Linked DNA regions of Homo sapiens. The protein of the gene in region 3 purifies or fractionates together with the protein of the main gene of each other region. This does not show direct contact. Each region holds a gene or a part of one and is shown on either strand. Other genes may lie near its edges. The genes, in order: RHEB, RSPRY1, SPATA19 and VDAC3.

Region 1 (8,460 bases), on a different chromosome or scaffold from region 3:
TGCATAAGTAGTACTTCTGCTTTAAAATTTCCCCAAACTAGAAAATATGTGGTTTTATTAATATTATTCTCCTACACCCCTACTGTTAAAGATGACACAGTCCCAGAATTTTTGCTCACCATGACACTTCACTGAAATGTGTCACCACTGAGTGTTTGCTATAACAGCTTGTTCTAATATTATAAAGTGTAAAATAACTACTAAATTATTTCCAGATCTACAGAGCAGTTTTTTAAAATCATGAAACCACCCACTTATTTATCTTGCTAGCAACAAGTTCATGATAACCTTTTCTTTTCTTTCTAATTCATTGTTATCACTGAACAATGTTTTTCTACCAAACAGTGGAGGAAAGGGTGGGCGAAGGGCTCCTGCCCTGTGTTAGGTTATCAGAAGTGTGGTAAGTAGAATATAATGTCTGAACATGCCTCACGAACTTTTAATGGATACATATTCATATTTATTTCTGCTCCTGCCTACAGACTTTAATAAACAAGTACTCTGAATTCATTTTTGAGGTAAAGAAGTCTTCATTATTGAACTGTAAGATGAGAAAAAATTTAAAATATGACCAAAGATGATGTTGATAGCCTCAAAAAAGTAGGGTCATATTACTCTGTTTCTGAGATAACATCAAGTTACATAAGTTGGACTTTCTTCTGATCCATTACTTACTAAGAAAATGTATGTATATATAGCTCCATGATACACAACTCCATGACTTTCCTTCCAACTCAGTTTTTACTTTTGAGACCACATCTTGCTCTGCTGCCCAGGCTGGAGTACAGTGACATGATTACAGATCACTGCAGCCTCAAACTCCTGGGTTCAAGTGATCCGCCTGTCTCAGCTGAGACTACAGGCACACACCATCACGCCCAGCTAATTCCAGCTCAGTATGAAATGGCATGAGGATACAGCCACAATATCCACTTTTAGAGGCAGAGCTTACGAAGAAAACAATCTTCTATTGTTCTGTTAATACAATTCCAAAATGAACCTTATTATTTCAAGGATCTAAAATCCTAAATTGCTTTGTATAGCAAATATTAAGGTCCAAGATGATGATTTTCTTATGTTCTTATTCCAGTGGACAGAAAACCGAGCTTGTTCATCCAGCACTCACATTAATCTGCTCCTCACACTTGCTTACTATTATATAATGACCAGCTAGACAAATCATAGGATGTAATCAGGACTCCTCCCTGTAGATACCCAGAGGTTACTTTCAAATATAACATCTTGAAAGGTTACTTTCAAAAATATTCCTGGAGTTAGTTTATCAACCAACAGGTTTCCTTCTCTGCTACCAGCACACTGGAACACAAAGGACAGCCAAATATTTTAAGCGAGGGGTGAGCAAACTTTTTCTGTAAAGGGCCAGACAGTACCAGTAAATATTTTAGGCTTTGTAGGCCACCTGGTCTCTGCTCTTACTATTCAACAACTCTGCCATTGTACAGCATGTAAAGGACAACATGTAAAGGAACAAGCATGGCTGTGTATCAATAAAACTTTATAGAGGTTAACATTTGAATTTCATATAATTTTCACATGCCAGACATTATTCTTCTTTGGACTTTTATATATTATGCTTAAATGGAAAAACCTTTCTTAGCTCTTGGTCTGTATAAAGACAGGAAATGGGCCTTGCTGGCCTGCAGGCTGTCGTTTGCCAAGCTCTTTACTGTCAGCCAAAGCATTCAAGTGATTCTCTTGCAAGCCTCCGGCCGGTGAAATATGCTTCGTGTCTAATATGCCAATCAGGTGTTGATGAATCCCATGTTTAAATCTACATGTTCCTGGTGACAAATCCTAGATAAGTCCTGGTCTCAAGAATCTGAGAAACCTAGTTCCAGGGCCCACCTGGGGTTCTAAGCCTGAAAAGACCAGCTTCCCTGCTTCAGATTATCCTTGGCGATCCCTAGAATCAAGATCTGTCTCAAAGCTGGGCACAGTGTTGTATGCCTGTAGTTCCAGCCACCTGGGAGGCTGAGGAAAGAGGATCACTTGAGTCCAGGATATTGAGTCCAGCCTGGGTAACACTGTGAGACTCATGTCTCTTTAAAAAATAAAATAAAATAAATAAATAGTCTCATGGTCCTAGAATCCATCAGGAATATTCTGAAACCATGGATTAAAATTGAACAAAGTAAAGGTCATGGCTGGTTCTGTCTTCCCTGCTTTTTTCTGCACATGGCCTAAAATGTCAACAGGCTTTTTGAGCCAACTTCTTTTTAATGCTGCAACTGCTCTATCCAATCCCAGAATAGTTCATTTCTCTTTCAAATCTTTAGGGCTGGAAAGAAGGGTATAGAGAAATGTGGGTGGGAGTACGGCTTCTGTAAGAATAAGGAACAGGGATCTCGAGTGTTTTTCATTCTTTCAAGCTTGGAATCCCTGGAAACTGCAATGGCTGGGAGAAAGGGGGTGTGGGGGAGAAGACTGTGCTCTCCATTCCTGTTTTGGAGCAGATTCTGGAATTTGAAGATTCCAGTAATGGGCCAGACTCCTACTGACTTGAATTAATAATTTCTAGATGGCAGGGGATGCAGACATGGAAGGAAAAATCTTTCAGGGTAAAGTAGGTAAATCTTTTGCAAGTTTTCTTTGACCCCAATTGGGAGACACACAGAATTTACCTCCTGCACTCAAAGCCTCCATGAATACACAATGGCTATTTTACACAAAAGAAGGCTTCTCAGTTTTTAAGTACTTGAAAACAATACTTACTGTTTTCTATGGTTGGATCGTAGGAGTCCACAAATTGGCCTTCAACAAATTGAATCGTCAATGAGGATTTCCCTATAAAAGAGAACAAGAGCTTAGTGTGTGTTGGCATATGAAGGTAAAAATTTTTAATTTTGCTGTTTTATTAAAAAACCATTAATAGATGAAGACACTGAAGGTATCAGGGTCAGAAAACATTCATTTAATTAGCATGTGAGCAATTTCAAAAAATGAAATAAATTTCATTAATTTGCTTTATATGAGGATATTATGCAATTAAGCTATTACAAAGTAAACATGTCTGTGACATTAACAAATATTACTGACCAACAAGCACATCAGATATTCTGTTAAAGATAATCTAAAAGGTTTAAAGTAAGCTAATTTCCTCTAGTATTCTTGGAATCTTGCTATTTAATTTTAATATGAAAATTAAAATGATTAGTTTCGTTGTATTCATTCATATATGACGGTTAGAAGTGTTACCAAGTACAGCTTTTAAAAAGAGTAATCCGGCCAGGCACCATGGCTCACGCCTGTAATCCCAGCACTTTGGGAGGCTGAGGCAGACGGATCACCTGAGGTCAGGAGTTTGAGACCAGCCTGGCCAACATGGCGAAATCCCGTCTCTACTAAAATTAACAAAAATTAGCTGGGTGTGGTGGCGGGCACCTGTAATCCCAGCTACTTGGGAGGCTGAGATAATAGAATTGCTTGCCCCCAGGAGGCAGAGGCTGCAGTGGGCCAAGATTGCACCACTGCACTCAAGCCTGGGCGACAGAGCAAGACCCTGTGTCAAAAAAAAAAAAAGGGTAATCTGAAAATATGTAACATAAGTCTTTATCTTAAAAACTCCTTTGAAGCTAGAAATCCTATGTCATTCAGTATGAAAGGCCTAGCAGTATCTAGAAATTAAGAAATGTTATGGATTTCACAAAATCGCCAATAATTGAACTTGTATGTTAATAAATCAACAACTAGAGCCTTAGCTTCTCACTCTTCTGCTACCTAAAATGTCTACTGGAGGACTTTAGAACAGGGTACATGCCCTGTGAAGAAATCGCATGAGATGCATAGTTCAGATGACTTTATCACCAGGAATGAGGAAGTGGTCTCTCCCTAATTTCACCTCCAAACCCTTCCTTCTCTCTTGCATCCTTGGAGCATTATTACACACATGCTGTATATGCCTGGCATACTTAACTCCATCACAACAGGACGTGCAGTGAGAGTGAAGGAGAGGCATGGTAACACCCATCTTACACTACTGGGTTTAATTTATGCTTGTTTCTCCTCCAAACTATGGATAGGTATAGTTGCACAATGTTTTCACACCAAAGGCATTCCTTAAAATTTAAATTATTAAAAAGTTGGCTTAAAAGTAGTGGTTGCTGGCCGGGTGTGGTGGCTCATGCTTGTAATTCCAGCACTTTGGGAGGCTGAAGCGGGTGGATCACCTGAGGTCTGGAGTTCGAGACCAGCCTGGCCAACATGGTTGGTCCTGTCTCTACTAAAAATACAAAAAAAGTTACCCAAGCGTGGTGATGGGCACCTGCGATCCCAGCTACTCAGGAGGCTGAGGCAGGAGGATAGTTTGAACCCAGGAGGCGGAGGTTGCAGTGAGCTGAGATGGCGCCACTGCACTCCACTCTGGGCAACAGAGTGAGACTCTGTCTTATAAAAAAAAAAAAAGAAAAAAAGTAGGGGTTGCTGAGAAGGAAAGGCCACAAGTTGGTAGACCTATTTACTCCTTATCCGCAGCCCAATACAGTTCAAAATGTCTCTAGAATTACTAATACCTGAAATTATTCTCTACAAAGCAACCTACATGAGCATTTGAAAATTAAACGCTACTTCTCTGCTTCCAATCCTCATTGCAATTAGAATAAATTCTCAACATTTTTTTTTTTTTTTTTTGAGACGGAGTCTTGCTGTGTCACCCAGGCTGGAGTGCAGTGGTGCAATCTTGGCTCACTGCAACCTCTGCCTCCCGGGTTGAGGCGATTCTCCTGCCTCAGCCCTCCTGAGTAGCTGGGATTACAGGCACGCGCCACCACACCTGACTAATTTTTTTTGTATTTTTAGTAGAGACAGGGTTTCACCACATTGGTCAGGCTGGTCTCGAACTCCTGACCTCATGATCCACCCGCCTCGGCCTCCCAAAGTGCTGGGATGACAGGCGTGAGCCACCGCGCCTGCCCTAAATTCCCAGCTTCTAACCGTGGCCCACAAACACCAGGCCATCCCTGCTCTGGTTACCACTCTGACCTCATCCGCCAACAGCCCCCGACAACCCATCCTGAGGCTCCAGTCACATCCCTTCTGCTCCTGGAGTTCCTGCCTGCCTTGGCCCCTTTACTCTAGCAACCCCCACTGCCCCCATCTCTGAATATATGACTCATCTTTGTCATTCTGATCTGAGCTCAAATGTTAGTTTCACAGAGAAACCTTCAAGACCACCCTAAGGTAGTACCCATTCCTTAAAAGTCATTCTCATAGCTACTGTTTTATTAAGTTATTTGGAATGATATTCATTTAGTGAACACTCCACTGAAGCCAGCACAGGGCCAGCCGACACATTGTAAACATTGAGATTTCTGAACAAATGAACGAAATTAAAGCGTAGATCTCCAAAGGTCACTCTTAGCCATTTAGATACTACAAAAGATCTCAATTTTATACAAATGAAATACAAAACACAGTTCAACAGAAATTAAGAAACAATTCAATTAGTATTTATTGGTACCTAATCACAGGCTTGCCTGTGATATAGGAATACAATAGTTTAAGAATTCCACAAATTTAAAATGAATTGTGTTGAAAAGAAACCATGTTATATATGCTAGCCTGTAAAGGAGAATTTAACTCAAAATACAGCAGAACTACTTCAGGTAACAAAAATAGCAAGAAGAAAACTCCTCTCATGTTATTGAAACTGAAAAATTAGAAGGAGTAAAAAAAAAACAAACTGTTATTTACACTGAATGCTACTGCTTAAAGAAATGAAATTTAATTAGAAAGAAAGAAGGGAACAAACTTCTTAAGGGCTTTTGCAAGGTACTTCTAAGGACTCCAGTGGGCTTTTTATACCCTTATGTGGGTAGGATAAGGGTTTGTGGGGTTTTTGTTTTGCTTACAAATGGAAAGAAAGGAAAGAAAGCGATCATTTTCTCCCTAAAGATATGGGCAAGAGTTACAAAGAAAAAAGGAAATAATATAATTAAAAAGATTTTTGCAACATTTTGTGTAGTAGAACTGGACTAAAAATAGTGAAAGAGGGGCTAAGTATGATACATGGGATAAGCTCCCCAAGCACTGGGCAACCAGGAACCCCTGGATCAGACAGTCCTCTGAACTGGCACTGGCCAAGTCTCGACAACCTGACTTGCGGGAGTGAAGGGACGGGGGAAAAGAGCCTCAGGAGTTTCCCGTGAAATTCAGGAAGCCACATTTGAACAGAAAAGAAAGTTACACACATTAAACAAGACAGCATGAGATCAAGTGCAAAAACGGAGTGAGAGAAGAGCTCCTTATTTGTATCACAATGGGCATACACTATTTGACAGGCTAAATTAACATTTCACTTGAAAACATAAGTAATCATTCCGGTAACAGACAATGTAGTCTAACCAAAATCACATCGCAGGTTGACAGCCAACTGTTGTTTTCATGAATAGTAAACTGGGATACCAGAATTTAAAACGTATTCCTCCAGGGTGGAAACTGGATTTTCAATCAGACTGGCCCTAGGAGAAAGGTACTGTTCATTAGCAGAAGTGGCACTGGAGAAAAACTACGTTTCCCTTGGGTCTCTCCTCCCTGGGGCTCTCCCGCCAAGGTGAGGTCATTAATTATTTAACTAATCCAGAAGGGATAGGAAGGCTATATTTGCTAACATGCTGTTTTTTGCCATTTCCATTAAAAAGTGCTATTATTAACTAGTGTTGAAATCTTGACAAGTCAGCATTAAATGCTAATGAATCTTCATAAATAAACCCCACCGCTCATTTTCAAGTGTTCTCAGTTCCAGTTGTAATTTCTGGCTTTAAGGAGTGTCTTCTGGAGACGTAGTTCAGATCTTTTGGTTAGGTTTTTCTAGTTTGTTTGCAACCACAAAAAGGCATTGGTGATCTCTACTGTGATCACCTTTAACCTTTTTCTCTCAATAACTTCATATATTTACTTTGGCTTTTGTCCTTAGCAAATTCAGGTCTGGAAACACTGTTACTCGCTTGCTGAAGATAATCTCACACTCCAGATCAACTCTTTGGAAAAATGTTACATGAAAACTACACAGGAGTGATCCCAAATAAATGGAAAAGTAGCCCATACTCAGATGTGTGTTTATCCTCAAACACAAATCACTCATTTAATGACATAAATTACTATAAATGGTTTAAAAGGCAGTATCTCAATTCCTACAATTAACTGTCAAATACTCTTCCTCCAAACCAAAACCCACCTTAACTTTTAAAAATAAAAATTATTTTAAAAAATTCTTCTGAGCTTTTATCAGGGAACAGCATTGTATTATTTTTTCCAATGATAAAATGGCACAGTGAGTTTCTCAGCTGGTATTTTCACTACAGAAGGTGTACTTTCAGGGGTGTTGACTCAATCTTATACCTCATGATTACTGCAAAATAGGCACTGTTTACAGAATTATTTTAAGTTTTCAGATTAATATTGACTTTGTTATCATGCTTATTCTCCTAAAAAATAACTTATTAGCCCGGTGTGGTGGCTCATGCCTGTAATCCCAGCACTCTGGGAGGCTGAGGCCGGTGGATTGCTTGACCCCAGGAGTTTGAGACCAGCCTGGACAACGTGATAAAACCCTATCTCTACAAAAAAAATATAAAAATTAGCTGAGTGTGGTGATGTGTGCATATAGTCTCAGTTACTCAAGAAGCTGATGTAGGAGGATCGCTTGAGCCGAAGGGTTGAGGCTGCAGTGTGCGTTGAGCGTGCCACTGCACTCCAGCCACGGTCTGTCCCCCCTCCCACCGACTCCCTACAAGCCCAGCATTTTCCCAGTTTATACATTGCTTGTTCATTGGGATATGATGGGGAAGACCAGATTTTCAATCTATTAACTAGTCTATCAAGGCATTCTGCAGAAGGGGGAGTCCATTAGAACCGATGTAATGCATCTAGGACACAACCCATTCCAGGGCTGCTTTCACCACCTCAAATTCACAACATAACTTTAAGGGGCTTTGATGACCATGGACACAAGCTAACAGTGGGCCTGAAAGCCCACTGGCCTTTGCACCAGTAATCCTCTCCATGCAACTTCAGCAACCCACCTCCTGAGCACACCAAGAAGTGCCTGGTCACCACCCAGACTGCTGTTCCTCTGGCACCTGCCCTTCTTCCCACCTATCAATCAATACACAGTATTCCCCAGTGGTCTCCCTTTCTGATTCTCATCATCTAATCCAAACCATCTCTACCAGCAATGCTTTCAAATCAGTGGTGTGGCCTAACTATTCATGAAGTCAATATACTGAGCCATGACCCATACTATTTTTTTTTTTAAGAAATAGGAATCCCAGCATGGACTGCAAACAAGAAAGGTGTTATGAACCTTCTATCTCAGTTATACATACATTTATTACTGGGTCACAATGTAAAATGTGTTTCTTACTAAGGTGGCTACAGACGAAAAGGTTAGAAATATACTAAACCATGACCTTGAATCTCCAATCTCCACCAGGTTTCTTTCTT
Region 2 (7,000 bases), on a different chromosome or scaffold from region 3:
GTGGGAGGATCCCTTGAGCCCAGGAGTTCAAAATCAGCCTGGGCAACATAGTGAGACCCTTTATCTACAAAAAATAAAAAAAATTTAGCTAGGTGTGGTGGTGCATGCCTGTAGTCCAGCAACATGGGAAGCTGAGGCAAGAGGATCACTTGAACCTGAGAGGTTGAGGATACAGTGAGCCATGACTGTGCCACTGCACTCTAGCCTAGGCGGGGCCGGGGAAGGAAGGGAGGCAAGAAGGAAAGGGAAGGAAAGAAGGAAGGAAGGGAGGAAGGGAGGAAGGGAGGGAGGGAGGGAGGGAAAGAAAGAAAGAAGAAAAAAAAGCAATTAAATAAAGCCTTGATAGAGAATGTGGCGGGGCACAGTGGCTAACGCCTACAATGCCAGCACTTCGGGAGGCTGAGGTGGGCTGACTGCTTGAGCCCAGGAGTTTCAAGACCAGCCTGGGCAACATGATGAAACCCCATCTCTAAAAAAAAATACAAAATTAGCCAGACATGGGGTCATGCACCTATGGTCCCAGCTACATGGGAGGCTGAGGTGGGAGGATCACCTGAGCCTAGGGAGGTTGCAGCTGCAGTGAGCTGTGATTGCTCTACTGCACGCCAGCCTGGGTGACAAAGTGAGACCCTGTTTCAAAATAAATAAATAAAAAGACAGAGGGCTGGGTGCAGTGGCTCATGCCTGTAGTCCCAGCACTTTGGGAGGAGGCCGAGGCAGGTGGATCACCTGAGGTCAGGAGTTCAAGACCAGCCTGGCCAACATGGTGAAATCCCGTTTCTACTAAAAATCCAAAAATCAGCCAGGTGTGGTGGCGGGTGCCTGTAATCCCAGCTACTTGGGAGGCTGAGGCAGGAGAATCGCTTGGACCCGGGAGGCGGAGGTTGCAGTGAGCCAAGATCACATCATTGCACTCCAGCCTGGGCAACAGAGTGAGACTCTTGTCTCAAAGAGGAAAAGAAAAAAAAAGAGGACATAATTCTTCATAATACAAAATAAATTTACATAACAAAATCAATACTGAATAAAACAGACCCCAAATGTATAAAGATGAAACACAATACATCAAATGTTCTTTGTGGTCATTTATCTTGTGCTTAAGCACAAATGATAGTTTCATAAAAGATAAGTATTAACTTACTTTAGTGGGCAATGGACATTCATCTAGTAACAATGTTATAACAGCTGGTCCCAGTGGATCTTCCAGTGGAATAACTCTAATTAAAGACTGGACAACATCCAACCATCCTTCATCTAAGAGCAAATCAAGAAGATTATATGATGGAGTCACTATTTTTAAAATGTGAAAATATGTCACACGAGATCAATTCACATTAAAAGAAAGACTTTTGGTCTATAGATTTTTAGCAGCTAATATTTGGCATGGACATAATCATCAATTGCTAGTCATCGTGGTGGAGTAAAAACATCTTAAGTTACAGGAGTCTGGTGATTTGTGGGTACCTTTATTTGGAAAAAGGTTAAGCTATGGTCTTGTGCTCTCACATTAAAATAGTTTTAAGCATCTTATTTACTACATAGGAGTTAACTGAGAAAATGAAGTATACTCAGCAGTTGGCTTTGTTTTCAGAATGATACTTAGGAAACTAAGGAACAAAAAATATCTTTGGCCAGGGGCTGTGGCTCACACCTGTAATCCCAGCACTTTGGGAGGCTGAGGCAGGAGGATCCCTTGAGCCCAGGAGTACAAGACCAGGCTGGGCCAACATGGTGAAATTCTGTCTCTACAAACAACAGAAAAATTGCTGGGTATTGTGGCATGCGCCTGTGGTGCTAGCTACTTGAGAAGCTGAGGTGGGGTGATCACCTGGGCCAGGGTAGGTTGAGGCTGTAGTTGAGCTGTGATCGTGCCACTGCACTCCAGCCTGGGCAACAGAGTGAGACTCTGTCTCAAAAAAAAAAAAAAATATATATATATATATATATATATAAATAATCTCCTCTCCATTCCAGAACAGTATGGTGAAAGATCCATCAATGCCAAAAAAAAAAAAAAAAAAAAAAAGGTATAATATGCATTGCCTATTATACCTATTCAGGGAAATTTCCATACAGTAAGGGCTTTTTTCATTGTTATGTATGCTGTATTTTTGGAGTCTTTTATCTCAAAACAAAACAAAACAAAAAACAAAAGGTGGCTACTTTTCTTCATTATTATATATTCATTATAAAGTAATGAAAACAAAACTAAAAATACCTGTTTCTGCCATTTCGTGTAATGTTATCATTGAATAGGGAGGTTCCTGATCACTGGAAAAAAAAATTCAAGGCATTAAACCTGAGGAAATAATAAATGACAATTCCAAATAAGAATTCAAACTGGAGGTGTGGAGGTAAAAAGGGACAGAAGAAATGAACACAAATGTAAGGAAAGAGATAGAAGAGACAACCTGAGCTATGACCTGTAAGGATGAATGTATACCATATGTGCTCATTTCCAGTCACTGTCCACAATGACCCACAGACAAAATGGGCAGGTGGATACAGACAAAGACTACTATGTGTCCTGGGGTAAAAGCACAGGAGTAAAACTGGAGATCACAGCCTACTCTCAGCTTTACACTCAGAGGCCCAGTGCCAACTGAGACAAGCCAGGAAGGTCAACATCACCTTCATACTTACCTCAGAGAAATGCCAGGAAGAGAGACGACAATCCCGGTTGAGGACTTATGGAAGCAAGGGCCTATATACGCATCTTCATTTTGAAGTTTTCTTCTGGAAATACCACTACATGCTTAGACTTCATAAAATGGTATTACAAGAAACAAAACCAAACTTAAGGAACTACTTAACATTCTAGACATTGCTCCAAAGTGGCATTATACACCTTAATTCAGTGGTGTGATCCCAGAAATCTTTAAAAAGTCCTTCAGGGGAACTTCAATAATGAGATGTTTTCCATTAAACAATTCTAACTGCTTAAGAACTCACCACTTATTTGTTTACATATTGTGGGTCTCTGTTTTAGTGTGGAAAAAAAAAAAGCCCCAAAAACTATCATCTTAAGTCATTTAATCCAGAGAATAACCTTGTGATATGGGAATTAGTATGGTCATTTCAGGTACTCATTAGGTGCTGCCTGTTTAAACAATATAATTGACTGATGCAAGTATTTCTGAAGAATGATCTGGCAATAATAAAATTAAGTATGCATATACCCAACAGTTGTAGATAAATTTTTACACAGGTCCAAAAATCAATGCATATTTGCGCTGTTCACTGCAGTGCTGTTTGTAAGAACAAAAATTTGGCAGTAACCTAAGTGACCATCACCAGATGAAAATGTAACAAAATATAATACTTTCAGGCATACAAGGGAATACTCTGTAATAGTCAGAAGCAGTTGTAGATTTATATACAGTAACACAGATTTCGATGTTGAGAAAAGTTAAAAACAAAGAGGTTTGTATAACTATGTCACTCTCTTTTAAAATATTGCAAGGGGCCAAGCGTGGGGGCTCACATCTGCAATCCCAGCACTTAAGGAGGCTGAAGCTCGACAATCGCTTGAGTCCAGGTATTTGAGACCAGCCTGGGCAACATGGCAAGACCTGGCTCTACAAAAACTTTTTTAAAAATTAGCCAGGTGCAGTAGCACACGCCTGTAGTCCAAGCTACTTAGGAGGCTGAGGTGGGAGGATGGTTTGAGTCCAGGAGGCTGAGGCTGCAGTGAGTCATGATCACGCCACTGTACGCCAGCCTGGGTGACAAAGTGAGACCCTGTCTCTTTAAAAACAAAACAAAACAAAAAAACTCTCTCTCTCAAAGTCTATTCTGCACCCATTTTTCCAATGAGCTTAAATTAACATTGTTTGTGGTTTACTTCCTTATTTGGGAAGGATAACTTTTATTACAATTTGGTACAAGGGATTTAAAAAATTTTTTTTGATTAATTAATTTTTGAGACAGGGTCTTGCTCTATTGCCCAGGCTGGAGTGCAGTGGTGTGATCATAGCTCACTGCAGCTGGAAACTCCTGGACTCTAGCAGTACTCCGGTCTTAGAATCCTGAGTAGCTGGGATCACAGGCAAGTGCCACTGTACCTGGATAATTTTTAAATTTTTTTTGCAGAGATGGGATCTCCCTATGTTGCCTAGGCTGGTCTTGAACTCCTGGCCTCCAGCTATCTTTCTACCTCAGCCTCTCAAAAGTGTTGGAATTACAGGTATGAGCCATTGTGTCTGGCCAAAAAATTATTCTTCTCGAAGACTAACAAATGCTCCAGTATTTTATGGAAAAGTTTAATACAGCTCTAAAAATTCGTTTGTATTCACAGGTACACTCTGTTTTATGCTTAATTTTTGAGGAACTAAACGAAACTGGGTTTCTATAAATGCGATTATCAAATGTTTATATACTTAAATTTACTAGCAGGGCCTGAAGCAAAAAGAACACATAAGTAACTTTTTAAAAAATACTACCATCTACTGAGCAACTGTTAAGTACAAAGCTCCACACTGAATGCCTTATGTACATTATCTCATGATAATCCTTGTGGGAACAATATTATCCCCCCATTTACAGATGAGGAATCTGAGGCTTCAAGAAGTAACTTACCCAATGTCATGCAGTTAGTAAGGCACTGGGCCAGAACTTGAGCTAGGCCCATCATGGTTCTAAGCTTTGTGCTCTTAACTACTGAAATATACAACCTTAAGTTAAATGTTTTTTTCTACTTGGATGCCCTTTAATTTCACTGTTATTCAATCTATGATTTTGTATTTAGAGGTAGACAAAGCAGAGGAAAAGACAAAACAGGTACAGGTGTGCCTTGCAGTATCAACTGACAAGCTTCCTAAATGGATTAAAGATAGTCAAATAAGGGATAAAGGATCAAATAAAGGATAATGAAAACTCTCCTTGACCTTAGTCCTTATGTTGCCAAGAGAAGTTGCCTGTAGCCATGTTCTTGGTAAAACAACTTACCTTGAATCTGAGGTCAGTGGAATAGACAGGCATGTACCATTAACAGTGAGCCTTCATGAAACCATTTCCTATTGTAGCTAGCAACATAAACTCACTCCATATTTACTCTATTCTCTAATAAAGATCATAGCTTTATCGTGTTTTCTGCTACAGAAACATTTAGACATTTCCAGACAAAGTAGATGACAGCAAGCAAAAACATCAAATCTTATCATTTACTCTGCCATCAGCGGAGCATTAAAATATTCTCCTTTGCCCTGTGAGCACAAGGCTTGGCGAGTATGTCCTAAAGGAACTGAAGGAGTCCTAAAGTCATGGTTCCGGGCAGAACACTTTTCATTCCACTGGAGGTGACCGTGAGTCAGATACTTACTTATCTACAAGAGTCCGTATTACTGCCAGTGTGTCCAACACTAGCCCATCCACATTTTGTTTCTTTCTCCTTGGCTCATGAGGTCCTCGGCCCCTCCTTGGTGGCCGAACAGGGTCCCGTGGTTGGCTCCTTGTGTCAGCAGTGGGTACTGCACTGTTCTCGGCCTGTTGCTGTTGGGTGTCAACACTGTCATCTGTTCCACTGTCATCTCGGCAGATACAGGAATTACCCATGGTAGTAGCGGCACCTCCAGTCCCTAGGAAGTGGGCTATGTGCTCTTCGAGAGTCAACAACAGACCCTGGCCAAGGCTTCTGCTCGCTAAGAACACGGCCCAACCAAAGACGATCATTTAGGTAGTTTTCAGTTTTCCAAGTACTGTTTTCATAACCTGGAGTTGAGGAATTTGCATCCTATTTGTTTTTAACAACTGAATGCCAAAGAAAGTTGCAGAGCTTATTCCCAACATTATCAACTACAGGGGATTCTGGACATCCAATGGCAGTTCTAAAAGAAAATGAGAAAAAGGAAAATGAATAAAAGATTCTTGACCACTTAATTACTCAAATTTTCCTAGTCTGATTTTATAGATATTAGGATTCTAATGAAGAATTATCTTTGGTTATTTTTATAGGTTTCCAATACAAAGAGATAGCTTTGGATAACAGAATTCGCAATCAATCAATAATTTCTTTTTATCATTCTGTTACAAAGTTGATTGCCAAACCATATTCTTATAGACCAGAGGAGTTATCATTGATTTTTTTAAAACCACATGTATAGTTTTTCCTGTCTATATAGAAATACATTAGAAGGATGTGTGCATTTTTTTTCAAGGGCTCCTTTTATCATAAAAAAAGAGTTGTCTTTCTGTGTAAGAGGTAGGTGTTAAAAAGAGAAAAATCTTTAAAAAAATGAATTAACTCCTTTCTTTAAACCCATAGGATAATTTAACAAGTTTTAAATAAAATAATTACAGACGTTTGTTGTTAAAAAAAAGTTATGATACAAATATGATAGCACCATTTGATATCAAGGAGAATAAAAGGATAGAGTTTCCCATTGGAAGCTCACTCAAGAACTGACAGAATTCATACAAGTTGTTGCAAAGTGTTTCTGTTATGTAAGCAAGGCTTTGTTTTGGGAAAGGAAAACTGATATCACAAAAGTTGTATTTTCACAATGATCAGTTTGTTGCACATGTCTATTACAAAGTTCAGAATAAGATGCACCAATTTATCTTTGCCTGAAAATACTGACTAAGGACCTTGTGCCAGGTACCACGCTGGACTAGGAGAATAAAGATGAGTAAGGAATAGTTCCTGCCCTCCAGGAATTCATGGATGGCCATTCTCATCCCACAAAGTATGTTTATCATTAAAAACCTAATGAAAGAACCAGCTCTTCAAGAAGCTGGTAAAATCTGGTTAGATTCTGGAAGGAAGTAAAGATTTAGAAATAGGAGACTTACATGGGCTGGTAGCAAAAAGTAAAAAAACAAACAAACAAACAAAACAGGCTGACAGCTGGAGAACAGGCCACATAAGGAATAGACTATGCTAGTGTGTAGTCTCTACACAACATCTGGCTAGTTACAATTAATTCCTCATACCTTGAGCACTGACCAGGAATAATATAAACAAAATTTATAATTCAGTGGAATTAGAAGAGAAATATTACTC
Region 3 (8,463 bases):
CCCCAGTAGGGAAAAGCTAAGCCTCTTTACCAAGTTCCCAGCTGCAGTGCCCCTTCCCACTGCCCAGGATAACCATCTTCTCTGCCCAGTTCCTCATCCGTCAGCTCTCTCACCTGTTGCTCTCAGCAGTCTGAGGAGGAGGGTCTCATACTGAAGTCCTGAGCTGAGACATCTGTAAGACGGGATATGCTGCAGGGGACAGAGGAGAAGGGCCAGGTGGAGGGAGGCTGCCTGATAGCAGAGCCTACCCAGACCACGGCACAGGGGCTGCGGTGGGAGGGCAGGCCGTGCCTAGGCCGTGGCCACACTGGGCCTGGGAGCACAGTCATATGAACAGGCCCACAGCCTGAAGCCCTTCTGTGCACTGGCAGACACCATGGGAGGCTGGCAAAGCCCTGTCATGTGGAGCACAGAAGACAAGACGCAGCCCTGGGAACTGTGTGTCTCTGCTCTTGATGTTGGCATACCAGAGATAGCATTGCTGGGTGTGGGCGGGAAACCCAGCAGTCACCCCCACCCTACCTGCCCCCAGTCAGGAACACAAATCAAGCAGTTCCAAACAGCTTACCTTCGTCTCACCTGCTCTATTCGATCTCGCATGATGTCCTCTGTCATCTCACTTGGCACTTGGAAGATACGAGTGTGGCTGCAAAAGGCCATTCGTACATTGGCATATGGGATCTGAGTTTCTTTCTTAACAGGCATAGAGAGCTGCTAGAGATGGGATCCTGCAAACAATGACTCTTGCCCTGACACCATGAACTTTTGAGCTGGTCTCTCCCCCTTCTTGACTCATGAGCACAAAGCTTTTTTTTACTAACCAGGTACCCTTGAGCCCCCAGTAATGCTGAACAGGTAGCAGACTGTCCCGGGGAGAGCCAGGGACACAGAGCTGAGTGCCCTTACTAAAGGCAGCAAGCAGTGGTCTCGTGAGCCGTGGAATTCACCCTTCTGAATTCAGTCTTCTGAATTCCTCTCCTATCATCAGCTCTTGATGACCTGCATCACCCCACACCCACTGTGGTTCAGAGATGCTTCTAGGAAAGCCTACAGCGAGGAAGCTGTGGGGTCCCCTGGGGAGCCTCCTTGCTTTGTTTCATAAAGGGATATATATATTTCCTGACTATATACTTACTGAAATAAGAGGGGGACACCAAAACCAGTGGGTTGTGGGGGGAGATAGGCGGAGGCTTTTGGTTTAAAATCTTTGTAGAAAATCCAGAGTGGAAAAATTATATGTAAATAATTGACTGATTCCTGTAGCCTGTCTGAAAAGCTTAAAACTAGTTTTTTTATACAGACGAGATTTTTAAAATATTGGAAGATGATGTGTGTGTTATCCAAACCAAGGAGCACAATGTCCGCAATTCCATAGCACAACCACGTCAGGCACAGAAAAGCCTGGATTATAATCAACAACATTTATGATTTTAGGGGCCTCAGAAGGCTTCCCATCCAAAAAAACTCTTTCCCAGGGAGCTCTCAGATCCCACCATGTTATTCCTTTTGGTTATGAAATTACTGTGCATTTGAGTCTTCCTAAAAGGCAGATGCCACTAGAAGGGGTAAGCACATGGAAACCGTTTCTTGAGAAATGGAGCCTCCTTGATACAACAGATCAACATCGATGATGCGGCAGGGAAAGGAGGAAGAGAGGAGGAAGGGGAGAAGTCTCCTTCAGGTTCCCGTAGGACCAGTCTAAGCCCTCAGTCCCTCTCCTGGGAAGGGGTGGCTGATGTGCTCCAGAGACCCCCAGTGAACACAGGTGCAGGAAAGGAAATAGGAAAGCCTCTGTCTGAAGCATGATGGCTTCAGGCCAGCTCCCTGGGCCTCGGGGCTCAGCATCTGCAGAGCCACGAGAGGCAGTGGGGACGGCTGTGAGCTGGCAGGCACCCGGGACGCTGGCGAAGCCACCATAACCGAGTGCAGAATTCTAGCCTCGGGCGCTGGGAAGCCTCCCCACACCTCAGTTGCAGATGAAAACTTTGGCTTTTGCATTTTAAGAGCTTATTTTCTTTTAGCTCTTTAAAGTGCAGCCACTTCTGAGCAACTCAAGTGCAAAAATAACAGAAATCTGAAATGTATTCAGAAGCATTTAAGAAATGGAGTGCAAGCCCAGTTTTCCAACCCCTCAAGTCATTTAAAAATGTAGAAATGAGCTGGGCTTTCAAGATAGCAAGGATATTCCCTTAAGACCCCAAAGCAAGGCTGAGGAATTTGTCAGCCAAAGACGACATCTCTAGAGAAGAGCATCTGAGGGTTCGTGAAGAGAGGGGCTTGCGCATCTCTCCCTCCCCTTCCTTCGCCCAGGGCAAGTGGGACACCTTACCTCCATCTTATGAACTGGATTCGTGTTCTCTCCTCTAGGACCTCTTGGCTCTGGTTTGCCAACAAATCAGACTTAGAGAGGTGGTGCTTCACCTGGGAAATCCAGAGGGTCCATGTGATTCCTGCCCAGTGTGGCCCCCAACTGGGCTGGCACAGAGCCCAGACGAGCACCTCACCCTTGCCCAGAATCATTTACGGTGCACCTCCCACCTCTCCCCTCTCCCTCACCGCTACTCCCAGGCAAGGTCTCAAACTCTCATTTACCACATCTCTGGTCACGTGGATGTCCTGGCCATGGGTGGGAGGGGAGTCAGTGGACATCTTCTCCCTTACACCCTGGGAAGGGTGGTTGATGGACAGCTTTTCCTTTATGCCCCGAGAAGCCTCTTCTTCTGTCTGAAAGGTGAGAAATTCCCTCTGAAAATGTCACTCTGCATCCAACCCTGGGTCTTCTTCTCCTCTTCCTTTCCTTTTATTCATTCTCCATCACAACTCACACACCACATATTCACACACATACACTCCTTACCTCACTGTTCCCACAATAAGCTACTTCCCTGTAAAGTCCTCAGAACTCCCTAAGTCCCTGGCCCTATCCCAAGGTGTTCCTGAGACACCCTTGAGCTGGGAAGGATGCAGCTGAAACCCTTAAGCCAGGATGCTTGAGAAGCAGGACGGCGTTAGTGGTGGTGCTAACACATTTCCTGCCAGGACACAAGCCACAGTGTCCTCCAGCACATGTGAAGAAATTAGACTCAAATCTAGGAAGGGTGTCTGGCAATGAACTTGAGTTCCAGTTCCATGAAGAAGGAAGTCCAGATCCCCACACCCACTGAGACCACTTCTCTAGCATTTTGGATATCCTGAGTCATAAAGAAATCTTACTCACTTTTTTCAACCAATGATGTAGTACAGACACAGCCTCACTTTCCACAACGTCAATGTCCTGGAACAAATTGGCAAGTTGGTGACCTCAGAAAACCTAGAAATTCAGCTCTTCCCACCCAGCCCCCGCAACTGTTACTCAAATTTATTTGTAAGATCTCTATGAAGTGCAGCAGGGTCCCACAGGGGGAGAAGATATATGAAAAATTATTCCATGTGACTACCACCAAGCTGCTTACCGAACTGGTTATTGGTAGGAAGGGAAGCCCTACACCTTTCCGAGCAAGAATATACACAATCCATGTCGTAATTATCATCTTTGAATGTATACCAGGCCCCCTTCTTGGCTCCCTCCTTCCATTGAAGCTGCCTGAGAACTCCTATGGGACAGGAAGGTCATTGAAGGGAGGTGTCCACCTGATTGGCTGACCCATGGTGATGTGACAATGGCCTCCCTTTGAAAATGATGTATGTGAGTATAAATGCCGTTGCCAAGAGCCCCTGCATTTCAGGCTCTGGGTGCACTCCTATGAGTTACCCTGCTTCAAGGAGCAGAACCATTGAATAAAAGATTGCTGTCTAACACCATTGGCTGACCCTTGAATTCTTTTCTTGGGAAAGCACTAATTTGGGAGCTCACCTCCAGGCAGGAGGATGGGGTCTGGAGCCAGGAAACCTAAGGCCGATTTACACTGACTTCCTAGAACTAAATCAAAAGGAAAACCCCAACTTTCCGTGCCCAAGTAACAAAAAGACCAGAGGCTACGCCCTTTGCAACCCTCTCCTTTTCTGCATGGCAGATGAAAAACTGAAAGTATCTCTGATTGCTCCCCTCCCACAATCAGGCTGGTTGTGGGCCAGGTCTTCATTTGCATAGAGATATAACTTTATAACTTCACTTCAGCCTCTGATTGGTCACTTTCCGCAACCAATCAGACTGATCATGAGCCACTACTTCATTTACATAGGGTATATACCAAGTAACCAATGGGAAACCCCTAGAGGGTATTTAAACCCCAGAAAATTCTGTAACCAGTCTGCTCCCATCCTGTGGAGTGTACTTTTATTTTCGTTAAATCTCTGCCTTTGTTACTTCATTCTTTCCTTCGTTTGTGTGTTTTGTCCATTTCTTTGTTTAAGACGCCAAGAACCTGAACACCCTCCACCAGTAACAACCTGTCCCGCAACAACTTGTCATGTGCTCTTGACCTAATCATTAGTCCCTCTGGTCTGAGTTTCTTTGTCTTATACTGAAAGGGATAGAGTTGTGTCCCTAGCTTTCTTCTAACTCTAATATTCCAAAAATTTTCCCACGTTTATTCTTCTCAGGATTATAGAAAACCTTTTATCACTTTCTCCAATTCCCCTGATACAGCCACTACACGTCTTCCCTCTCAACAATTCGCCTCAATTTTATATCATCCCTGACATAGTCAGAATCGGCTAGGCTCTGCTGAGGACTGAGGCAACAAACCAACCTCCAAATCAAAATGTTTATTTCTCACTCTCAAAAGCTCTCGTGCAAGTTGGGTAATTTCAGAGCAATTGTGTGCCATGTGGAGACTCACAGGTCCACATTCAGAGGACACGACCTCCATGACTGCCAAAGCAGGGAAGAGAGCACAGAGAGGAATCAGGTCAGTGTTCCACCTTTCAGCTCAGAGGCTCCTACTTAGAGCTTTTGATCTAGAACTAGTCCTATGGCCCCTACCTAATTCCAAGGAAGACTGGAAATTGTAAAATAGCAGATGAAATTACCTGTCAACATCTCTGTTTCTACAGCTATCCCCTAAAATTTATGTTTTCATCCTTATTGATGTAATTTTATTTTTGAATATTTAAAATATTAATGTGATTCAGAAATCAAAACATGAACAGATACATTCAAGGACGTTCCATCTCTTCCCCATACCTTCAACCTTGTTCTAACTCACTTCAGAAGTAAAATTTTCATTAGTTTCTCGACGACATATCCTGTGCTTATGTTGTCAAAATGAAGCTCATACATAAATCTATTTGCTTTTTGATTACAATGTTATAAAATGCATACAGTAAAATGTACAAATATGCATACAGCGGAGAAAAATTTTTACACACACACACATACACACACACACACACACACACACACACTTACTTGTTTAACCACTGCCCAGATCAAGATAGAAAACATTTTTAGTAGGACATTTGTATTATATTTGATTTGATGCTGTTTAAAATCATGCTGCTATGAAAATTTTTATACTGTACCTATCTTTTGGTTGACATAAGCACTAAATCTTCTGAGTATATACCAAGGATTAGAGTTGCTAGGTCATAGACTTTAGATATGTGTAGCATTCATATACACCAAACAGTACTGCAAAGGGGTTGTATTAATCTACTGCCCATAAGCAATGTATGAAAGTGACAGTTACTCCACGTTTTTTCCAACACTTAGTATTGTCGCTCCTTTAAATTTAGCCAATCTAGTAGAGATGTAGTGGTAACTAATAATACTTTAATTTTCATTTAACCGATTATCAGTGGCATCATGCATGTTTTTATTTGCCTATTGGTCACTTTGGATATTCTTTTTTGTGAAGTGCCTCCTCGAGCTTTGTGCCCTTTCATTGAATTGTTGGTCTTTTTCTTATTGATTTGTAGATTTTTTAATGTATTGTAAATAGTAGTCCTTTATCAATATGTGTTTTGCAATTATTTTATCTCAATTTATGACTTGCCTTTCACTCTTTGAGTACTGTCTTCTGAGGAACAGAAACTCTTAATTTTTAGTCAGTTTTATTGTGATATATTTAAATAATATAAAATTTACCCATCATAATGTATAATTAAATAATTTTTAGTAGATTCAGAGAATTGTGCAACCATCACAACTATTCAATTATAGAACATATCCATCACTCCAGAAATGTTTGTCATGCCCATTTGCAGGCAACCTCGGCTTCCATTCTCAGCCCCACCAATCTGCTTTCTATCTCTAGAGATGTGCCTTTTCTGGACATTTCATACATATGGAACTATACCGTATTATGTCTTGCTTATTTCACCAAGCATGTTTGGGAGGGTCATCTACATACCTTGTAGCATGTGTCAGTAATTCACTCCTTTTTATTATGGGGTATTACCCCATAATACTATTCCACTGCATGGACATACCACATTTTGTTTGTCCATTCACCAGTTGATGTACCTTAAATGGTGTCCAGTTTGGGTCTTCTATGAATAACACTGTAATGAACGTGTTGTTGTTGTTGTTGTTAAATTTTTTAATTTTATCTTTCCATATGTGTTGCGGTACAGGTGGTATTTGGTTACATGAGTAAGTTCTTTAGTGGTGACTTCTGAGATTTTGGTTCACCCATCACCCAAGCAGTGTACACTGCACCACATTTGTAGTCTTTTATCCCTCACCCCCTCCCACTTTTCTCCCCAAGTCCCCGAAGTCCATTGTATTATTCTTATGCCTTTGCATCCTCATAGCTTAGCTCCCACACATCAGCGAGAACATGCAATATTTGGTTTTTCATTCCTGAGTTACTTCACTTAGAATAACAGTCTCCAATCTCATCCAGTTCACTGCAAATGCTATTAATTCATTCCTTTTTATGGCTGAATATTATTCTATCATATATATATATACCACAGTTTCTTTATCCACTCATTGATTGATGGGCATTTGGGTTGCTTCCACGATTTTGCAGTTGTGAATTGTACTGCTATAAATATGCGTGTACAAGTATCTTTTTTGAATAATGACTTTTTTCCTCTGGGTAGGTACCCAGTAGTGGGATTGCTGGATCAAATGGTAGTTCCACTTTTAGTTCTTTAAAGAATCTCCACACTGTTTTCCACAGCGGCTGTGCTAGTTTACATTCCCACCAGCAGTGTAGAAGTGTTCCCTGATCACCGCATGCATGCCAACATCTATTGTTTTTTGATTTTTTGATTCTGGCCATTCTTGCAGGAGTAAGGTGGTATTGAATTGTGGTTTTGATTTGTATTTCCCTGAGCATTAGTGATGTTGAGCATTTTTTCATATGTTTATTGGCCATTTGTGTATCTTCTTCTGAGAATTGTCTATTCATGTCCTTAGCCCACTTTTTGATGGGATTGTTTGAATTTGTTGTAGATTCTTAATATTAGTCCTTTGTCAGACGTATAGATTGTGAAGATTTTCTCCCACTCTGTGGGTTGTCTGTTTATTCTGCTGACTGTTCCTTTTGCCCTGCAAAAGCACGTTAGTTTAATTAGGTCCCAGCTATTTATCTTTGTTTTTATTGCATTTGCTTTTGGGTTCTTGGTCATGAAATCCTTGCCTAAGCCAATGTCTAGAAGGGTTTTTCCAATGTTATCTTCTAGAATTTTTATAGTTTGAGTTCCTAGATTTCAGTCCCTAATCCATCTTGAGTTGATTTTTGTATAAGGTGAGAGATGAGGATCCAGTTTCATTCTCCTACATGTGGCTAGCCAATTATCCCAGCACCATTTGTTGAAAAGGGTATCTTTTCCCCACTTTATGTTTTTGTTTGCTTTGTCAGAGATCAGTTGGCTGTAAGTATTTGGATTTATTTCTGGGTTCCCTATTCTGTTCCATTGGCCTATGTGCCTATTTTTATACCAGTACCACACTGTTTTGGTGACTGTGGCATTACTGTATAGTTTGAAATCAGGTAGTGTAATGCCTCCAGATTTGTTCTTTTTGCTTAGTCTTGCTTTGGCTATGTGGGCTCCTTTTTTGTTTCCATATGAATTTTAGAATTGTTTTTTCTAACTCTTGAAGAATGATTATGGTATTTTAATGGAGATTTCATTGAATTCATAGATTGCTTTTGGCAATGTGGTCATTTTTCACAATATTGATTCTACTCATCTATGAGCATGGGATGTGTTTTCATTTGTAGGTGTCATCTATGATGTCTTTCAGCAGCGTTTTGTAGTTTTCCTTGTAGAGGTCTTTTGACTCCTTTGTTAGGTATATTCCTAAGTATTTTAATTTTTTGCAGCTATTGTAAAAGGGGTTGAGTTCTTGATTTGATTCTCCGCTTGGTCGCTTGGTGTATAAAAGACCTACTGATTTGTGTACATTAATTTTGTATCTGGGAACTTTGCTAAATTCTTTTATCAGTTTTAGAAGCTTTCTGGAAGAGTCCTTAGGGTTTTCAAGGTAAACAGTCATATAATCAGCAAACAGGGACAGTTTGACTTCCTCTTTACCGATTTGGATGCCCTTTATTTCTTTCTCTTGTC
Region 4 (8,460 bases), on a different chromosome or scaffold from region 3:
ATAATACTGTTTCATCAATTTCAGTAACTGTCTATACCACTGCTTGCCTTTGTTTTAGCCATCATAAGTAAATTAGAGCATCTAGCAGAGAGGAATCTGCAACAGTTTAAAAACACATAGTTTGCCCTTTGCTTTTTCTTCCTGGTATAGTAGCAGTGTCCAGTAGGCTCAACATAAAATACTACGTAAAAGTTCTGATTCATCCCACCAACATGGTGCAGCCTACATAACTGAATCCCAGGACTCTTTCAGAGCACCTGTTACTTCTGAATGCATTAGCGGTACCTGGGTTCCAACCGAGAATACCAGTACCTGAAACCTCCACAGAATTACCGGGATGTCCCAGGATGCTCAGATCAATTTGGTGGTGGTTGTTGGTGACCAAAACAGACCTGCTTCCAGATACTGTCAAGATGAGAGGGCAGCAGAGGAAGCAGTAACATCTCCAAAGGGTCATCTTACCATGAGGTAAGCCATGCTCTGGGCTCCCTCTATCCCAGTGGTTCTTCTACAGAGGCTGGAGCTTCCTCAAGTTTGGGGTGCAGGCTGAGGGGCCAGTGACCACCAGCAGCACAGCCTGCACACCACGTGCACCAGCCTCCTGGCAAGGTTTTGCTATGAGGATAGCACCGCAAGGATGGATATTCACCAAGGCATGCTAAATCTGAGTACCATCACTTCTCAGCATGCTAATGGCTACAATATTTTGGGCAACTGCACTGATACTAAGGAATAAATTATAAACACTCACACATGTGTGTGCAGCTGGAAGTCCGCAGCCTTGTAACCCAGGGCGAAATTATTCTGTGACAGTTTGGATTTGGCTGTGTCAAAACTCATCTGATAGCCAGCAAGCCACCCTTCGAAGGCCAACACAGCCCAGCCATAGATGGTTGGTCCAGAAAAATCTATATCAACATTACTGCCAACACTAAAACAATCCCGTTTATAGGAGGCCTTCAATTTCCCACTCTTCTTTCTGCAATAAACAAACAAACAAAAGCAAATGATGAAAACAACATGAGTTCTTACTACTGTCTAGGAATTTTTAGAGTAAGATCCTCTCTCTCATCTCCCAATGTAAATATTATTTTGGTACATGCCACATATATAGTAAAAACATTTCAAATGACCTAGTTCTACAAATATAATTTTGTTAGGATTAGACATGTATAGACTACTATCATCTATTACTCATTATAAGTTCAAATGATAGGATACTTCATGATTTATTTCATAAAAGCATGAACAAAAGTATAAGAATGAATAAGAGGCTGGGTGTGGTGGCTCACACCTGTAATCCCAGCACTTTGGGAGGCCAAGGTGGGCGGATGACGAGGCCAGGAGATTGAGACCATCCTGGCCAACATGGTGAAACCCCGTTTCTACTAAAAATACAAAAATTAGCTGGGCGTGGTGGCACACGCCTGTAGTCCCAGCTACTTGGGAGGCTGAGGCAGGAGAATCACTTGAACCTGGGAGGCAGAGGTTGCAGTGAGCCAAGATCATGCCACTGTACTCCAGCCTGGCGACAGAGCGAGACTCGTCTCAAAAGAAAAAAAAAGAATGAATAAGATATTTCAGTGCCAAATTAATAATCTGAAGGTGTATGTATACAGACGTACAAGAAGCCAAATCTCTTTAAATGTTTCCAAATGCCAAATGCCACAAAGAATTAATCCCCAATATACATTATTAACCTATCATGGAGAGAAGCATGCTTTTTTGAAGGACAATACTGAAAAAATGAAATTAGTTCTTAATAACCCTATTCCAATCAAGCCTCTTGTAGGAATATTTGTCCTGGCCGGGCACAGTGGCTCATGCCTGTAAGCCCAGCATTTTGGGAGGCCGAGCCAGGCGGAACACGAGGTCAAGACAGAGACCATCCTGCCCAACGTGGTAAAACTCCGTCTCTACTAAAAATACAAAAATTAGCTGGGCGTGGTGGTGCATGCCTGTAGTCCCAGCTATTTGGGAGGCTGAGGCAGGAGAATTGCTTGAACCCAGGAGGCAGAGTTTGCAGTGAGCTGAGATAGTGCCACTATACTCCAGCAAGACTCCATCTCAAAAAAAAAAAAAAAAAAAAAAAAGAAAAGAATATTTGTCCTAAAGATAACTGAAGTGTGTGGCAAAAAGAACACACCTGTTGTTACGGCTGAGACAAATGTCACTTTGCATTCATCTAGCAACCTCCGTCCTTCAGATAGCATGGACCCACATTAGGCAGATAGGAAATGACACAATCCCCCTTTTTTTCACGAGGAAATTGAGGTCAAGAAGTTGGGGGATTTACAGAGGCTAAGAAATCAAGTAGGCAGCAGAACTAATCATTATAGCATCTGAGAGCCAGATCACCTTCTTAAGAAATTAACTTTTCAGCACCATAAGAGAGGGTGAGGGGGAAAAAAAAGGAATTAACTTTTTTTTTTTTTTTTGAGACAGAGTCTCGCTCTGTTGCCCAGGCTGGAGTGCATCTCGGCTCACTGCAAGCTCCGCCTCCTGGGTTCATGCCATTCTCCTGCCTCAGCCTCCTGAGTAGCTGGGACTACAGGCGCCCACCACCATGCCTGGCTAATTTTTTGTATTTTTTAGTAGAGATGGGGTTTCACCGTGTTAGCCAGGATGGTTTCCATCTCCGGACCTCATGATCCGCCCATCTCGGCCTCCCAAAGTGCTAGGATTACAGGCGTGAGCCACCACGCCCAGCCAAAAGGAATTAACTTTCTCAGCAGAATACCATGTCCATCAATCTTCAGAATTGCTTAAGATTCATCTATGGTCTCAAGACTCTTCTAGCTCCTAAATTTTTTCTACCATGTGTCTCTCTCAAATACATTTATACATTTTTGCTCATCTATTCAGTTTTCAAATTGTTCATCCTGCCTTGGTGGGGAGGGATCTTCCTTTATCTGTATTACCTATACAAGGTCTCCAATATTCCTTATAGCAACCTTCTGAGTTCTTCCTGCCTCTGAACTTTGCACTATATCTCCTTATTCTAAAGCTCTCTACCCTTTCAGGCTCCAAAAACGTTTCAGGAAATGGGATTTGAATAATTACCCTGTGTTCGGTACAAATATGGTATCAAGAGTCAGTTTCAACCCTTCAGCCAACTGAAAAACAAAGATTTAAAATAAATAATTAGTAATTTTCAATCATTTATCCAACTCAAGAAACCAATTCTAAAGTTTCCTGAGTTCTTTAACAAAAAAAAGGAGTCATTCAAGAAAGCAAAATATTAAATTATGTAATAAGTAAGCTCTCCATCCTCCTGTCCCCTCACCCCAGCCTTCATCATGGTTCTCCCACTAAAAAATGGGGCAAATCCTATTTTAGCAAGTTACATAAAATACAGTTCAAAACCAAACAGAATTCCCATACAACAAAATCATCTTGATACTCTCTTGAAAGAGCAGTAATGAGATAACCTGACATTTAACAAGCAGGCTAAGTCATTTTACTCAGTTTTGCATGTACATTATCTATACATGGTATCTCTATCAAAAACAGTGCCCTGTACATAGTGGGCACTTGACTATATCTAATAGATTTTCTCCTTGAAAACATGAGAACATTTTAGAAAAATTTTTCTGTCAAGCCAATTTTTCAACAATTACAAAACTAAACCAAATTTCCGCAAATAGTTTGTTCTACCCAGGAGAAGCTTAGCTGTGTAACAGAGAACCAGTCAGAACAAAGATGTAATATAGTAATTAGAGTACTCACAAACAAAGCCTTATTTTCTAGAAACATAAGACATCAAAAAAGGCCACATGCAGAGAAAAAATATGGCTACTAGATAGGTTGTAAGATCTCTTTTGATTATATTTGGGGTATGTTCATCATTCAATCTACAAGATAAATTGAACCTATGAATAACTTCTAATGCGTTCTCTTACCTTATTCTCCCAAGAGATTTCTGTCCCTAGAGTATTGTCTGTGTTCCATTTCTGGGTGAAGGTAAGTCCATAGTTACAGACCTTATATTTGGTTTCTAGGTTGCCTGATGCTTTCCCTGTATCAGTGTAAGCATGACCAGAAGTAGAAAATTCCTGGTAAGCAAGAAAAAATAATTACTTTAAAATTAGCTCATCAAATAGAAAATATTCACTTTGGAAAGCAGTGTTCAATGTATCAAAAACAATACCATTTACTGCTTGCCACAGCCCTACTCTAGAGCAACTTCTTTCCTCCTTTCCCCTTGCTTTTCCAGTCCCTAAATATTTTAACCAGTTCTGCCAGGCGCAGTGGCTCATGCCTGTAATCCCAGCATGTTACGAGGCCAAGGCGGGTGGATCCCTTGAGTCCAGGAGCTCAAGACCAGCCTGCGCAACATGGCAAAACCCCATCTCTACAAAAAATACAAAAAATTAGCCAGGCATGATGGCACGTGACTGTAGTCCCAGCCTGAGCCCAGGAGGCAGAGGTTGCAGTGAGCCGAGATCATGCCACTTCACCCTAGCCTGGGCAACGGAGTGAGACAGCTCAATACCAGTTTCAGATCTTTCCATTACTCTACTTCTCTTATTAATATCTCTTGTTCCATATACTCTCTTACCAAATGGTAATCCTAAATTCTCTCCTTTAAAAAAGAAGTATCTTTACTGAAAACAAATGCCTTTACTAAAAAGACCAAAAATATTGTATCTTAAACATTTTACTTTCATGACCTAAAAAAAGATTATCAGTTCTCTGCTATATGTTTCAAACTATCAGTTAATTTCAAGGTCCTTAAAAATCCCAAAATACTGCCCTCCTCCTTTTTAATAGGGTCAACACTTTACTACTTCCTTTTAAAAATGTTTTTTTTTATTGTGGTAAATACATGTAACATACATTTTACCATTTTAATAATGTTTTAAGTGTACAGTGAAGTGGCATTAAGTACAGTCACACTGCTGTGAAAACTTTAATGCTTTTGTGTGCAAAACTGCAAAACTTCTGCTTAGACAATTTCAATATTTGAAAGTACTACCCATTTTTCAAAATAAAGTAGAATGCTATAATTTATCCTTCTTTCCCCCTTTCTATCCTGTCTACCTTTAAGAGTGCTTTCTATCAAACAGTTACTATGAATGAGACTCTGTCTCAAAAAAATAAAATAAAATAAAATACATCCTTTGCCCTAGTTCAGTGCCCTTTAAGTCATATGACAATAAGCAATTAGAAATGGACCTCCTTCTGGGGAAAGCAGACAGCACCTGTCACTGACAATCTATGAACTGTCAAGAAAAAACATTCTGATTGGTCCTGTTTTAGGGAGCATTTCTGAAATCCTGCCAACAGTAATGAGATGCTGCCAACCCTGACCAGTCTTTTTCACTGCCTGCAACATGAATCCTCTCCTTAACAAATGCCCTGTCCCCTAACTCTAGTTCTACAGGCAGATGAGACAACTGGGAAGTTATGTTCTGTTTATCAAACCACACAGAATGGTTTCAAAGAGAGTATCATGCTGCACATTTAGGGGAAGGCCTTAGTAAAAAAAAAATGATAACATGTTAATCATGTTTAACTGTTCACATAATTATTTTAACGTGACAATCATTTTTCTTTTAGTAGATCCAACTATCTAGTGTTTTATTTTTTACATTTACTTTTCACAAACTTGACAAGTATAACAAATGCAAATCTTAATTTTGGTGCTAGAAAAACCTTATGCACAAAATTAAGGTAGAGGGGTAGTCTACATTTCTCCCTTGTCAGCATCAATTCTTAGTTTGAAGGTCTGTCACGAATCTAAAATGCCACAGGTACAAATCTCAGAAAAAAAGGCTAGAATTGTTCTAAGTTGAGTTCCAGGCTCACGATTCACAGTTCAGTTTGTGTCTAATTTCATAATTTGGTCAAACAAGTGCAAAACACATTTATAACATGCATATAACATGCATATAGCTCTACATTAAATGCTTAGTAAGCAACAAAACAAACAAAAATGTTACTGTTAAGTAGATAGCATATGAGAAAAATATCAAGACACAATCTAAGAAATTTGGAACAATGATTGAAATTTATCCTAAATCAATACCAGAAACCAAAAGCAGCCATAAAAACAAGCATACGAATAAGCTTTTTTTTCTTACCATCTGAATGAATATTACCACACAACAGCAGCATGAAAGGGAGATAAAATTTTAGTTGATAATTTTTGCAACACAAACCTAATGAGCAAATTCTGGAACCTACACAAAATGAGAATGATTCTTCTATTTTAACAGAACTATATACACAGCGTGCCCATCTTAGTAAGGGAGGTGCATATATATTTATTTACTCCAGAGAAACCCAGGGAAAGAATGATGGTCACAAACCATGATTATACACAGTATCATTAGAATTCCACATGTCTTTGTCCTTCTAATTATACATTCAGAAATAAAATTTTCATGGGTTTGAATGGATAAATACCAAAAACGATGCAGCCAATGAGGAGAAATCAGAGTAAGGTAAATTAAAACTTAACCTACTTGCTGAGATTTATTAAATAAAAGCAATTTTTTCTGAGACGGAGTCTTGCACTGTTGCCCAGGCTGGATGGAGTACAGTGGCACGATCTCTGCTCACTGCAACCTCTGCCTCCTGGGTTCATGCCATTCTCCTGCCTCAGCCTCCCAAGTAGCCAGGACTACAGGCACCCGTCATCAGGTCTGGCTAATTTTTTTGTATTTTTAGTAGAGACGGGGTTTCACCATATTAGCCAGGATGGTCTCAATCTCCTGACCTCGTGATCCGCCCGCCTTGGCCTCCCAAAGTGCTGGGATCACAGGCGTGAGCCACCGCACCTGGCCTTTTTTTTTTTTTTTTTAAGACAAAGTCTCACTCTGTCACCCAGGCTGGAGTGCAATGGCTTGGTCTCGGCTCACTGAAACCTCCACCTCCCAGGTTCAAGAGATTCTCCCGCCTCAGCCTCCCGAGTAGCTGGGACTATGTGCGTGCCACCACACCCAGCTAATTTTTGGTATATTTTTAGTAGAGACGGGGTTTCAGAATGTTGACCAGGCTGGTCTCGAACTCCTGACCTCATGACCCGCCCACCTCGGCCTCCCAAAGTGCTGGGATTACAGGTGTGAGCCGCTGCACCCAGCCAAAAGCTATTGTTAATGATACTTTGAAAATATGCCAACATAGCCTTTACTGTAGTCTTTACTTCCAATAAAAAAAACTTTATAAACATCAGTTAAAAACTGTAGAATAATGTACATGCATACGTGCAGAAATACATTTTATTTACATATTTTGTTTCGACTAATCATGAAGGGGCAGAGTAAAGTTAATTTGTTTTTGTAAAAGGGTAATAAAATTTCCATGAACCCATTATCATGGAAGTGAGGTTTTTGGTGCCCATATACATATTCATGAAAGTATAAACATATGACATGGGTCAAAAAATATATATTCTACATCTTCTGAGTGAAAGCTGTAGTATACTCTGAGAAACACAAAAGGTCTCTTCAAAAATTCAACTTGGTTGTTTATTTTAATTGGCTAAGAATGCTGTTTAAAATCTGAGAGGACAAAGCTGTGGGGAAGACAGCATGGTGCTGGTTCAAGTAACTAGACTGTCATGATTTTAAACAGATTCCTTTAAGTTAATTATGTTACATTCATTAAAAATATATTAGATACTCACCACTCCACTACAAGACTTGGTTTTCAGGTCTATCTTGACCATGCCAAAGCCTATACACACACACACACAAAAACACAGTAATGTACAAAATGTGACATTCACTAGTTTTTGCAACTCAGAAATTATGAAATAGCCTATAGTACCTTCCATATGAAAAATGCATAGTATTTTCATTGGGTGAGAGTTCCTCAAGAAACTGAATTATAACCAAATAAATGCAGTATAATTTTCAAGCACTCAAAATGAATAAAGATATACTTTTAAAATGTAAGTTAAAGAAAAAAATAAATGAAAGGAATATGCACTATTCCAAGAATCAAAATTGCTGAAAATAGTGTGCTGCTATATATATCGTTTAAAATATAGTTAACATTACTAGTTAATAAGAAAAAATCAAATATGTACAGCACATAAATTTAAGTTAAATTTTAAAACCTAAAAAATATTTATTTAGGATCAGAATATACATTACTCCAAAGAAGTCAAAAGTTATGTTGTCACTTTCATAAAAACAATGCCACTGTTTGGAGGGAGGAAAAGTTCTACCCCCTAATTTAATTGTCCTCAGGGCCAGACAAAGAGACATAAATGTTATATATATTATTCTACATTCCAGATAACATTAAATATGGACATGTATATGCATCTGTATATGTATATAATTGCTTTTAATGCTTGTAAGGGGTTCTGCCTCTAAAGAATGAGGTCTAATAGCCTGTTAATAGTTATCCCCTTAAATCTTGTGAAGTGGAATAATGCTGACTTACCCTTATTTTACTAACACAGTATTTACACACAGTAGGCATTCAACACTAACCTTTACCCCA

The links.
Region 1: the proteins of SPATA19 (region 3) and RHEB purify together in Homo sapiens (affinity purification with mass spectrometry; 2 studies listed by BioGRID and IntAct, with this or other methods). This does not show direct contact.
Region 2: the proteins of SPATA19 (region 3) and RSPRY1 purify together in Homo sapiens (affinity purification with mass spectrometry; 2 studies listed by BioGRID and IntAct, with this or other methods). This does not show direct contact.
Region 4: the proteins of SPATA19 (region 3) and VDAC3 purify together in Homo sapiens (affinity purification with mass spectrometry; 2 studies listed by BioGRID and IntAct, with this or other methods). This does not show direct contact.

The regions. Positions count from the first base shown.
Region 1 is NC_000007.14:151,488,210-151,496,669, forward strand, and holds part of RHEB (GTP-binding protein Rheb), read right to left. Parts: intron 2,806-8,460; coding exon 2,734-2,805; intron 1-2,733. UniProt on the Homo sapiens protein: Small GTPase that acts as an allosteric activator of the canonical mTORC1 complex, an evolutionarily conserved central nutrient sensor that stimulates anabolic reactions and macromolecule biosynthesis to promote cellular biomass generation and growth.
Region 2 is NC_000016.10:57,203,329-57,210,328, reverse strand, and holds part of RSPRY1 (RING finger and SPRY domain-containing protein 1 isoform 1 precursor), read right to left. Parts: intron 5,826-7,000; 5' UTR 5,671-5,825; coding exon 5,321-5,670; coding exon of another isoform or gene 5,317-5,320; exon of another isoform or gene 4,948-5,316; intron 2,737-4,947; coding exon of another isoform or gene 2,644-2,736; intron 2,272-2,643; coding exon 2,219-2,271; intron 1,255-2,218; coding exon 1,142-1,254; intron 1-1,141.
Region 3 is NC_000011.10:133,841,917-133,850,379, forward strand, and holds the start of SPATA19 (spermatogenesis-associated protein 19, mitochondrial precursor), read right to left. Parts: upstream 3,598-8,463; 5' UTR 3,531-3,597; coding exon 3,453-3,530; intron 3,275-3,452; coding exon 3,218-3,274; intron 2,725-3,217; coding exon 2,593-2,724; intron 2,422-2,592; coding exon 2,330-2,421; intron 647-2,329; coding exon 569-646; intron 190-568; coding exon 123-189; 3' UTR 114-122; intron 1-113.
Region 4 is NC_000008.11:42,394,307-42,402,766, reverse strand, and holds part of VDAC3 (non-selective voltage-gated ion channel VDAC3), read right to left. Parts: coding exon of another isoform or gene 8,457-8,460; intron 7,684-8,456; coding exon 7,634-7,683; intron 6,090-7,633; coding exon of another isoform or gene 6,087-6,089; intron 4,056-6,086; coding exon 3,903-4,055; intron 3,117-3,902; coding exon 3,064-3,116; intron 980-3,063; coding exon 752-979; intron 1-751. UniProt on the Homo sapiens protein: Non-selective voltage-gated ion channel that mediates the transport of anions and cations through the mitochondrion outer membrane and plasma membrane.